Homo sapiens: one gene and its partner. The protein of the gene in region 1 purifies or fractionates together with the protein of each later gene. This does not show direct contact. Each region holds a gene or a part of one and is shown on either strand. Other genes may lie near its edges.

Region 1 (5,702 bases):
CGTATCTCATTAGGTCAGGCCCCAAAGGCACCCTAAAGCTATTGTCATTACTTGACTATGCTATGTTCTGTCTCTTCTATGCTTTGCAGTGCTATTCCCGTTGCCTAGAACACCTTTCCTGACCTGAAGGGTCACCCCCAAACCAGCCTTCAAGAGCTTCTTTTGGTGAGTCTTTCCTAATGTCCCCTCATAGTCCCCCAAGATTGTCAGATTCTCCTCTTCAGTTCTTCTGGCACCCTGACTGAATTCCCCTGTTATAACACAGGTGACACTGCAGTGTAATTGTCAGATTGTTTCCTACATTTGACTATAACGTCTTTGAGGGAAAAATGTGACTTATTCATCTCAGCATCTCCAATGCCTAGCTTATTAACTGGCACAAAATAAGCAGGTAATAAATGTTTATTAATGAATAAATAATGGTATAATCTAGACTTGGGTTCATGAAGACAACTGTATCCTCTCTTTGGCTGATTTATTCCTGGTATTTTGCAGACCATTGCATCCTCAACAGGGTAAGGAGGAACAAAGAGAGGAAGGAAAAGCTACAACTCTGGAACATCTGCTGTCAAAATTTTGGAGGAAGGTAAAGAAAGCTTAGTAAAGATTTTCTTTCGTATATCTTTTATTTGTTCTATCTCTAACTCACATGATGAATTGTTCAACAAATATATATTGAGAGCCTACTACATGTCAAGCATTGTTTAAGCATTTGGAATATATTAGTGAACAAAACAGCCCTCAGCATTGGCTCTACAAAGAGCTTTAAACAATCATTTCCCCTTTCTGCATCTTAGGTCTGCATTTGTGCATGAACAAGAAACACTATAATGGAAAGCTTTAGATCCTCATACAAAAATCACTGATAAACCCATGGATATATTGTTCATAAGTGCTGCCACTTCTGTCTAGAACCAAGAACAGTTGAGAGGAAGAGGTTACTGATCAAATCCGCTCTTGACCTTGTTCTCAGCTATCCACACCAACAGGCATTGAATTCATTTTTTTAACAAGGGAGTTTTATATACACATGCAGCATTCTGAGGTTTTGACTTCCTTCCTAGCTGCAAATCTCTTTGAGGCTCCATCTGGGACACTGAGCCCCACCCATATGCACCACCTTGAAGCTTCCTTTCTCTGGTTTGCTGGGGACTTTGTACGGAGAGGCTCCATCTGGGCATAGCATTACACCTTTAGAGGCTGCTGGGGGCACAGGGACGATTTCCAACAGAAACCAAGTATATTTGAAAGACACCAAGTCAAGCTTTTGTTTCCTTCCTACAACCTCAGCTTCTGTTGAAGTGGAAACTAGACTGGAAATAAAGGCCACGCTGATTTTCTTCTGAGAAAATACATTACTATGTTAAAAAAAAAAAAGTCCCAATTGCTCCGTGGGAAAGGTTTTTATTTTATAAATACTCTGTGGCTCTGAAATGACAGCATGATTACATTTCTGACAGCACTGGTATAATTCTCAGACTCCCCAGGGAGAGCAACGTGGGGATTTTCCTCCTGGAAAGAAAAGGCAAACTTGCAGGTGCTGAAGGTACATTTGATTTAAGCACGATTCAAAATAAGTAAATACAGATGATAACACAGCAAATACTGAAAGTTGGGTAATCAGCAAAAATAAATGGCATTATCCAGAGCACTATAAATGCGTGAAAGAAAACTGCAAAAATAACTGTTTTTGTTTTTACAACTTTCCAGTGGCTCACTGTCTCCAAATGGGGAGATATGAGAGGAACTGTAGGGAAGAAGAGAAACTGGAAGAGCATAGGGAAATGTAAACATGAGAAGGGAATAGGAGAGTGGAGGAAGGGGACAACTTCAGTGTCACTCTCTCACAGACTCTCCTGCCCCTTGTGATCTGGACAGACCCTGGCAGGCCTCGAGTTCCCTGGAGGTTGCGCCTTAGCGACAGATGACCCGTCTCTGACCACCAAGCACCTAGAAGGCACTTTCGCAGGAGCAAGGCAGGGGTCTGGGGCGCGGAGGGGGTGGGCGCAAGCCGCCCTCGTCCAGCGGTTCCCGCCGAGCATGGTGATAATGAGGGTGGGGCCAGCGTTGGCGGTAGAGCGCCTGGTGGCCCCGGGGCCCCTCCTCGTCCTCCGCGCCTCCCTGCGGCGCGCAGCACAGAGAGCCCAGCCGCTTCCGCAGCTGTCGCCGGAGCCGGCAGTCGCCCGCCTGGAAGAAGAGGTAGACGAAGGGATTGAGAGCGCTGTTGGCCATCGCCACCACGCGCAGCGCCGCCGACAGGCCCTCTCCCTCCCAGTCTCCCGCGGGCCCGGACGACCACGCGGCCGCCAGCCGGGCGGCAAAGTAGGGCAGCTCGCAGCCCACGAACAGCAGCGCCAGCAGCAGGCTCATCTTCAGGCTCTGCACCTTGGCGCGGGGCAGCGCGCTGGGCGCAGGGGCTCGACCTGGGCTCGCCGACCAGGGCGCTGCAGCCGCGGGGGCCTGCGGCCGGTGCCGCCACCAGACGGAGAGTAGGTGGCCGCAAGCGACGCCCAGGACCGTAACAGGCGCGACGAAGCCCGCGACGGCCTCGTAGAACGCGTAGACCTGCAGGTGCCAGCGCGGCAGGGGCGCGAAGATCCCGTGGCAGCGACGCTCCCCCGGCCAGGCGCGGGCGGCCGGGGGCGCGCCTGGCTGCAGGGACGTTGGCGGCGGCGGCGGCGGCAGCGGCGAGGGGGAGTCCCCGCGCACCACGAAGGCCGGGGGCAGCGCCAGCAGCAGTGCCAGCAGCCAGCCCAGGGCGGCGAGGGCACGCGCGGGCAGCGGCCGGCCGTGCGGAAGACGCACCGCGCGCCGGCGCTCGAGGGCGATGAGCACCACGAGGTGGGCCGAGGCGCCCCGCCCGGATGCCTGCAGCAGCTGCAGGAAGCGGCACGCCAGGTCCCCCGTGGCCGCGCGGGGCTCGCCCAGCAGTTCCCAGGCCAGCTGTGACAGCGCCGTGCCCCCGCACGCGTACAGGTCCGCCAGGGCCAGCTGCACCAGCAGGAAGTCCATCTTGCGACGCTTGGGGCCCGCCCAGGGCCCGCCGCCGCCGCACAGGCGGCACAGCACTGTGGTGTTGCCTGCCACCGCCACCACCAGGATGACCCCCAGGAACACCAGGCGGACGCGGCGGCTGGGCGGCCCAGAGGCAGGGGCTCCTTGCCCCAAGGTCAGGTTGAGACCCCAGCCCAGCAAGATGGGCACGGAAATGTTGGGCGCCGGCGGCAGAATTGAGGGGCTAAAGAGATCCTCCATCCTTGTCCCGGAGGAAGAGGAGGCACCGAAGAGGGCGGGCAGGACGCGGGAAACCAAAGTGGAGGCGAGGCGGCGCGGGGAGCGACGCTGGGTCTATACGAGTTCCCAAAGTTAGTTGAAAAGGCACACGCACAGAGAGGGAGATGGATTCGGGCGGCTTTGCGCTTAGTTGTTTTTGTCGATTGTCCTCGTGATTTGTCACTCAAATGTGGGTTGTACACTCGAGGAACACACATGATTCCTATTCTCCACCTTCCCCGCGTCTTCCCTCCCATTCCCGGCGGGTACTCTTCCAATCTCTGCAGCGGCCCCCGACGCTACCCTCGCGGAAGCCGCGGACCCCTGGGCGCTGAGAACCTCATCCATTCTCTATTTACGTGTAAAGCACAGCAGGACAGAATGTCGCTTTGCTTGGCCATTGTATACGGCCAGTGTTATGCCAGCACCCACACAAGAGAGGACCTCTTGACTGAGATTGTACCACACGCCCCCACCACCCCAATGTGATTGCCAGTAGGAAAAAAATAGAAAAGACATTAGTTTTTATTTTAAAGGTTTGAAATGCCATGGATCTGCACGAGCATGAGAAAAACAGGAACACAAGAAACCTAACAGCGTTTTGAGCAAAGAGGAGACCTATTAGCTGAATTTTGATCAAGATGTGTCTTCTCTGTCCAAGAATGAAAGTATTTTAATTAGAGGGTACTAAAGTCAATGATGTTGCTTTTAGGAGTGGCAGTGTTGCAGATCGTTCCAAATACTAGGAGCAGTGGGTCACAGCTGCTTTCTTGGTGATGTAAAATTCATTTCATTAGTCTGAAGAGGGCATTAATAGGTTTTATGCAAATGGTAGTGCATTTATTGCTTTTCTCCTAATATTTTCATCCAGTGAAGGATGCGTCATCACACTCCTCATTCTCTTGATTCTGTTTTCCAGCAGATGGGAAGTTGCTAGGAGGGGCTACGCCTCCAATAAGCCTAGAGAAAAGGTGACTAAGAAAGTGATAAGGCGGCCAATTTTTTTAAAAAAGAAATCCAAGTCACAGGAAATGGTTTAGATTAAATGTTGCTGCTTTCATTTTAGCCTTGTCTCCTCACAAACACATTTTAGTTTCCCTGTTGGAAGCATCCATTTGTCTTTTTATGCACCCTCCACGTTAATCATGGTGAAAGTAGAATTTCCTGTACTTCCTGGCCTGGGGGCCAGGGAGGTATGAGTGTTGTCTAGGGTTCACATTCCCAATCTGAGGAAACATTTGGAACTTTAAGATTCATGGCCTAGGAAGATTTGGTGGGTTCCATGATAGTCCTGCCAGCTGCTGTAGGAATCCCATTTCCCAAGCTGTTGTCCTTTGGCCAGAAACCTTGGTTATTTTCATCATCATCTCTGTGGTGCCTCGCTCTGGTCTGACAGGTTGTAGTTATCAGTGGGTATGTGTTGAGTTGATGAATTAGTGGATATACGATGCTTTTCAGATACCTTCGAGCATAAATGCCTGCCTTGACTATAAATCCATCACCTAAGAAAAAATTCCTTTTATACTATGCCAGTATTGTCCAGAGGAGCCCAAGGAAGCTCTGTGGAGACATAGGAATAAGTGTTCCTGGTGGGACATTTAAGAAAGCTAGAGTGATAGCCTTGGAAAATCTAAAATCCTGGTTTGATTTTCATACTCTCCCTTTAGAACTTTTTATCCAAGGCCTTTTTCTATGCACACACATCATCCCAGTTTATAATGCACTTCTTCCAGGGAGCCTTCTCTGAGCAATGTTCATCATTCAGTGATTTTCCTAGCCAGTATCATTTCAGTGTTTCTCAAGATAGTCTATCATTTGTCTCAAATTTGTTGAAATGCTCTTATATATTAGCATTTCAAAATGACTATAGTGAAATTTCACAGAACTTTAGTAAGATCTGATAAAACATTGATTTTCAACAAATTCTTTTTTTTTTTTTTTTTTCCCTTTTTGAGACAGGGTCTCACTCTGTTGCCCAGGCTGGAGTGAAGTGGCATGATCATAGCTCACTGCAGCCTCGACTTCCTGGGCTCAGGTGATTCTCTCACCTCAGCCTCCCAACTAGCTGGGACTGTAGGCAGACACCACCACACCCAGCTAAGTTTTGTATTTTTTGTAGAGGCTAAGTTTCGCCATGTTGCCCAGGCTAGTTTTAAACTCCTGGGCTCAAGAATCTGCCCACCTTGGCCTCCCAAAGTGTTGGGATTACAGGCATGAGCCACTGGGCCTGGCCTAAACTAATTCTTATTAAAATTATACAATGCACATAGTTTTGAAAGTCAAATGGAACTAGAAGGCTGATAACATAAAGAGTTCCCTGTCCTATACATCTCCACTTCTTTATCCCCTCTTTCTAGAGGGAACCAATTTAGACTCTATTTGCTCTTTCTTCTGGCATTGACTTAATTCATAATAGTAAATAATATATA
Region 2 (5,036 bases), on another chromosome or scaffold:
ACGGAACGAGCAGAACAATTAAAACTACATAAGGCCTTAAAATATATCCACAGTGTGTATTATTTCCATATTCATTCATTTACAAATTAGACTACATACCATTAATTTTATTTTTATTTTTCATTGTTTTATTCAGACAGGGTTCATTCAAGGAAAGGCAACTTAGTTTTTGTATGTGTGAGCTTTATTTTTTTACTATATTGGTTAATATAAAAGTTATGAATTAAACGTATTCTTATCTCCTATACCCAGGAGTGAATCCATGAAATTCTCAGATAGTAATCCAAAACAATAGGTCCTATTTTTAAAAATAGCTAAAGTGGGCCAGGCGCAGTGGCTCATGCCTGTAATTCCGACACTTTGGGAGGCCAAGGGCAGATCATGAGGTCAGGAGTTCAAGACCAGCCTGATCAACATGGCAAAACCCTGTCTCTACTAAAAATACAAAAATTAGCCAGGCGTGGTGGCAAGCATCTGTAATACCAGCTACTCAGGAGGCTGAGGCAGGAGAATCACTTGATCCCGGGAGGCAGAGGTTGCAGTGAATCAAGATCGCGCCACTGCACTCCAGCCTCAGTGACACAGCAAGACTCCATCTCAAAAAATGAAAAAAATAGCCAAAGTGAAAAGGGATCTGATAGCCAGTCTGTTAGTGGTCTTTAAGATCAACTCATGGACTTTCGGGATTTCATACAATGAAGACTACTGCAATTCTATGAAGACTATGAGATCAGTCAAAATTTAAAACATCGTATACAAAATCATTCTTGAAATCTCTAAATGCCTTTTAAGTAACCAGCATGAAAATTTTAAGTACTTGCCTCACAGTACCAAACTTAGAAGTCAAAACTAGTTAAAATTCAGTGCTATCATGACTTCTCATTTACAAGGTAACTCATTGGTAAATTAATAGATGGCATAAAAATTAAGATTTACATCTTTTTTAAAGGATAAATGTATGTAATCAGAGTATACAGAAAATTCAATGTATTTTACAATAAAATAACTTTAAACCTCTATCCCTGTACAACAGGGTTTAGGTTAATTCTAGTGAACTTGCATGGTTTTAAATCTCTTTTACAGTTCATTCCATTATGAGTACTTAAATTGCTTTAGATACATAGCTTTTTTCAAAATATTACAGTTGTATTCCAGGATAAGATTTAATATATTGAGATGTTTTAAAAATATTTATAAATTTGTTTCTAGTATGCAAAAGCATTTGGCAATACTTTTACAGCATTTGATTTTATAGAATTAAAATCTCATACAGTACTCATCTTGATGTTAAAAAAAAATTCACAGAAAAAATATAAATTACACAGCCTGACTGCACGGTACTGTTATTTCCAGTTTTTAGTTCTGGTAATTAAAACCTTCATTAAGTCTGTTAACAAATCATTACCTGTACATTTATGAAGGCAACTGACATGATTTGCAAACAAAACCTTCAGGTTTTATGTTATTTACCAAAGAGTGCAGTTCAGCAAGAAAGGAAAACCCAGTAGCAAATTTACAGAATATTTTACAAATTTACCAGTTCCTGTGACACAAACTGTTTCAACCTTTCAAGATACTGTCCATAAAGTTCCACATCATTGTGACCTGCTCCTTCAACCCAGAGAGGCTCCACAGGTCTTTGGCAACGTTCAAACAATGCGAGGCCATGTGAAAAGTCAATGACTTCATCTTCAGTCCCATGAATTATTAATACTGGAGAGGTTATCTTAGAGATTTTGTCAATGCTGCAGGGAAAAAGGAAGGGGGAAAAATGCAATAAATTAACTATGTAAAGGAACATATTCTTGTGCTATATCAGACAGATAATTCAAATATGAGAATTGTATGAATCAGTTCAGAAGGTAAGAATGTCTCCTGAATTTCCAGTAAGATTCAAAAATTGCCTTTTACATACTCCCTACCTTAAGATTATCTGAGGAAGTTATTTTCATGCACTTGTTTTGATGGTTTTGCTGGAATCACTCAATGCTCTTGTCACTCTACTGTACCTTTCTACAATGTTGACTTTTGGCACAGAGAAACTTAGGTGTCCAGAAGAAGAGAAAATTTAAGAACCATTTCAAGTATGCGCTAATTTCACTTTCTGCACTCACTATATTCTTTCTCCTAGTCTCCTACTAAAATGACAGCAAAATGTTTTATGTTTTTGTTCTTGTTTGAGGATAAAGATACAAAAACAAGGAGAATGTACTAAAATATAATAAAATGTTGGAGCTGGAAAGAAGATTAATGTGTGAAACAATTTATTAAAAGAAGAAAACACAATTTTAGGCAGATAGATGGTAAAGTGATGAACGAAACCAATTTATACAACAGAATACCCCAGAAAGCTAAGGAATTACCATGGTGATGAAGGGGGTGATTGAAATATACAGGATTTTTGCAAAGTCTGTGTAAGAAAGTTAGCCTCCCCTTCCCAGTTCCTTTTGCCTGTTCATATACCCAGAAACTGCCTGCCCCCAAGACTGGAATGTCTGTGAACTAGAAGACTGCCAGAGTTTAGAACAGAGGTATCATAGAGACAATGGAAACATATACATTTACATACTGGCTACTATGAACCCATTTTCCCTATGTGGCTCCCAGAATGCTGGTAGTCAGGCCACTGTCCTCCAGGAGGGACTTTTAGAAAGTCTTCTTTGGGCCAGGTGCGGTGGCTCATGCCTGTAATCTCGGCACTTTGGGAGGCCGTAGTGGGTGGATCACCTGAGGTCAGGAGTTCGAGACCAGCCTGATCAACATGGTGAAACCCCGTCTCTACTAAAAATACAAAAAAAAAAAAAAAAATTAGCCAGGCATGATGGCGCATGCCTGTAATCCCAGCTACTCGCGAGGCTGAGGCAGGAGAATCACTTGAACCCTGGAGGCAGAGGTTGCAGTGAGCCAAGATCACACCATTGTACTCCAGCCTGGGTGTCGCAGCGAGACTCTGTCTCAGAAAAAAAAAGAAAGAAAGAAAGAAAGAAAGAGCCTTCTTTGGAGATTATTATCAGATCAGCCCTTTAGTTGATCTGCTAAATCTTGATTGTCTGCTTATATGTAAGAGTAAAGAGTTGATCAGCTCCTTTACTTACATATAAGCAGGCAACCAAGAATTATCAGACATGAGAGGAGAACACTTCAAATAACAGAGGAATCAAAACAAACACTTTTTTAAAAGGCAACTTGGAGGACACAGAAACTACACAGACAATTCTTTTTAAGAATCTTTAGAGAAAGGTATTATAATAAACATAAAATGAAAATGGAATGTTGACAATGAAAAAACCATCAATGAAATAATCTAAGGCTGCATTTGGTAAGAATAAATACTTGGGTTTACTATCTGTTGTCAGAAAGATGTTCAGCGGTAGAGGAATTAAAACTTGAATAAAAAATAAAAAGAAGTATATTATCTTTTTCAAACAGTTTATTTTTATTTTTTGAGACAGGGTCTCGCTCTGTCGCCCAGGCTGGAGTGCAGTGGCACCATCTTGGCTCACTGCCATCTCTGTCTCCCAGGTTCAAGGGATTCTCATGCCTCAGCCTCTCGAGTAGCTGGGATTACAGGCACGCATCACCATGCCTGGCTAATTTTTGTAATTTTGGTGGAGACGGGGTTTCACCATGTTGGCCAGGCTGGTCTCGAACTCTTGGCCTCAAGTGATCCACCCGCCACGGCCTCCAAAAGTGCTGGGACTACAGGCGTGAACCACTGTGCCTGGCCAAACAGTTTATTTTTAGTGTTGCTCTCTGTTGGTGCACCAGAAATGAAAGAGGGAGCTAGATGGAGACATAAGTTGACAACAACACTGATATGGGGATACTCAGATACATCCCTATCATTTTTACCATTCAGCTAGACAGAGGCAGTATAATGCCTATACCCACATTACCTGAAACAAAAACAAACCCAAAACAAAATAAAAACCCAAACATGCCCACAGCTTGCCCTTGTGATAAGATCATGTGTTCACATACTTTCCCTACTAAAGTGATCCATTACTGGCTAATGATGAAAATTCTGTGTTTTTAAAATAATTCTTGAACCATGTGATGACTTTGCCTTTGGCCCATCGGCCATTCACAAAAAAAATCCTTTGTATTGCTGCCAATTGGAGAAAGGAGAGAAAACTAAAATTTGCCAACTTATTTCTTGTCTTCTCCTTGAGAAAAATAGGCCATTAATTTTTTCCAACTATGAAGAGTAGGTGGGAACTACCTCCTGTCTTGAGAAGCATGAAGGAAAAGTAGCTACTTTCCTTTCAAATACATCTAAGTATGTTTGCAGGTTTTGTGGCAGCAATACTTACTAATCTAGTTAATTTAAGATTCAACTTTTTTTCAATTCACTTCTTTTGTAAGTTAGGTATCATTAATCAGATATTTACTCATTTTAGCTTCTACCTGTTCTTCTCTAACATCAAGTGTCTCACTGGATGGCCCTATCCATTAGCACCTCAGGGCAGAAACATGGTAGTCATGTTCAAGTTTTTCTCTTTAGCATCCTACACCCAGTCTGATACTCAGTTCTGTCAAATTTATGTTTCAAATTAATTCCCTTGTCTCCAATACTAGTGCCACCACCTGAGGTGTAAGGCCCTCAGCAATTTTCATCTGGATTACTACTCCTCAAACATTTCAGCCTTCTGACTGGTCACCTGCTAATACCCTCTTTACAAATTAATTTTTCATAATTTCTATGTGCTAATATATATAAAATGAAGTTTATGGTTGAGTGAACTGTGTCATGAATACTTTAAATGATGAAAAAATTCCCAAGTTTCTTGGAATTTAACTATTTTGAATATTGCTACTTACTTTGGGAATGCATCAAAACAGTAGGTCTTCTTGGTATCAGGAAAGGCAACTCGCATTCCCGAAGTCAGAGGAGAATGAAGAATAACAGCAGCACTCTCATATCGAGCAGCAAGATCCACAGACGGTACTGTCCCTATACTTTGGCCATATATAATCACATTTTCAGGGCGAATGCCATATCTACAAAGTTCAGGCGTTAAAAACAAAAACCAAAA

Evidence for each region. Proteins that work in one complex are often made in the same cells at the same time.
Region 2: the proteins of GPR150 (region 1) and ABHD17B purify together in Homo sapiens (affinity purification with mass spectrometry; one large-scale study listed by BioGRID and IntAct). This does not show direct contact.

What each region holds. Positions count from the first base shown.
Region 1 is NC_000005.10:95,617,829-95,623,530, reverse strand, and holds GPR150 (probable G-protein coupled receptor 150), read right to left. Parts: upstream 3,445-5,702; 5' UTR 3,256-3,444; coding exon 1,951-3,255; 3' UTR 1,389-1,950; downstream 1-1,388. UniProt on the Homo sapiens protein: Orphan receptor.
Region 2 is NC_000009.12:71,865,262-71,870,297, forward strand, and holds part of ABHD17B (alpha/beta hydrolase domain-containing protein 17B), read right to left. Parts: intron 5,002-5,036; coding exon 4,822-5,001; intron 1,746-4,821; coding exon 1,526-1,745; 3' UTR 1-1,525. UniProt on the Homo sapiens protein: Hydrolyzes fatty acids from S-acylated cysteine residues in proteins. Has depalmitoylating activity towards DLG4/PSD95. Has depalmitoylating activity towards GAP43. Has depalmitoylating activity towards MAP6. Has depalmitoylating activity towards NRAS.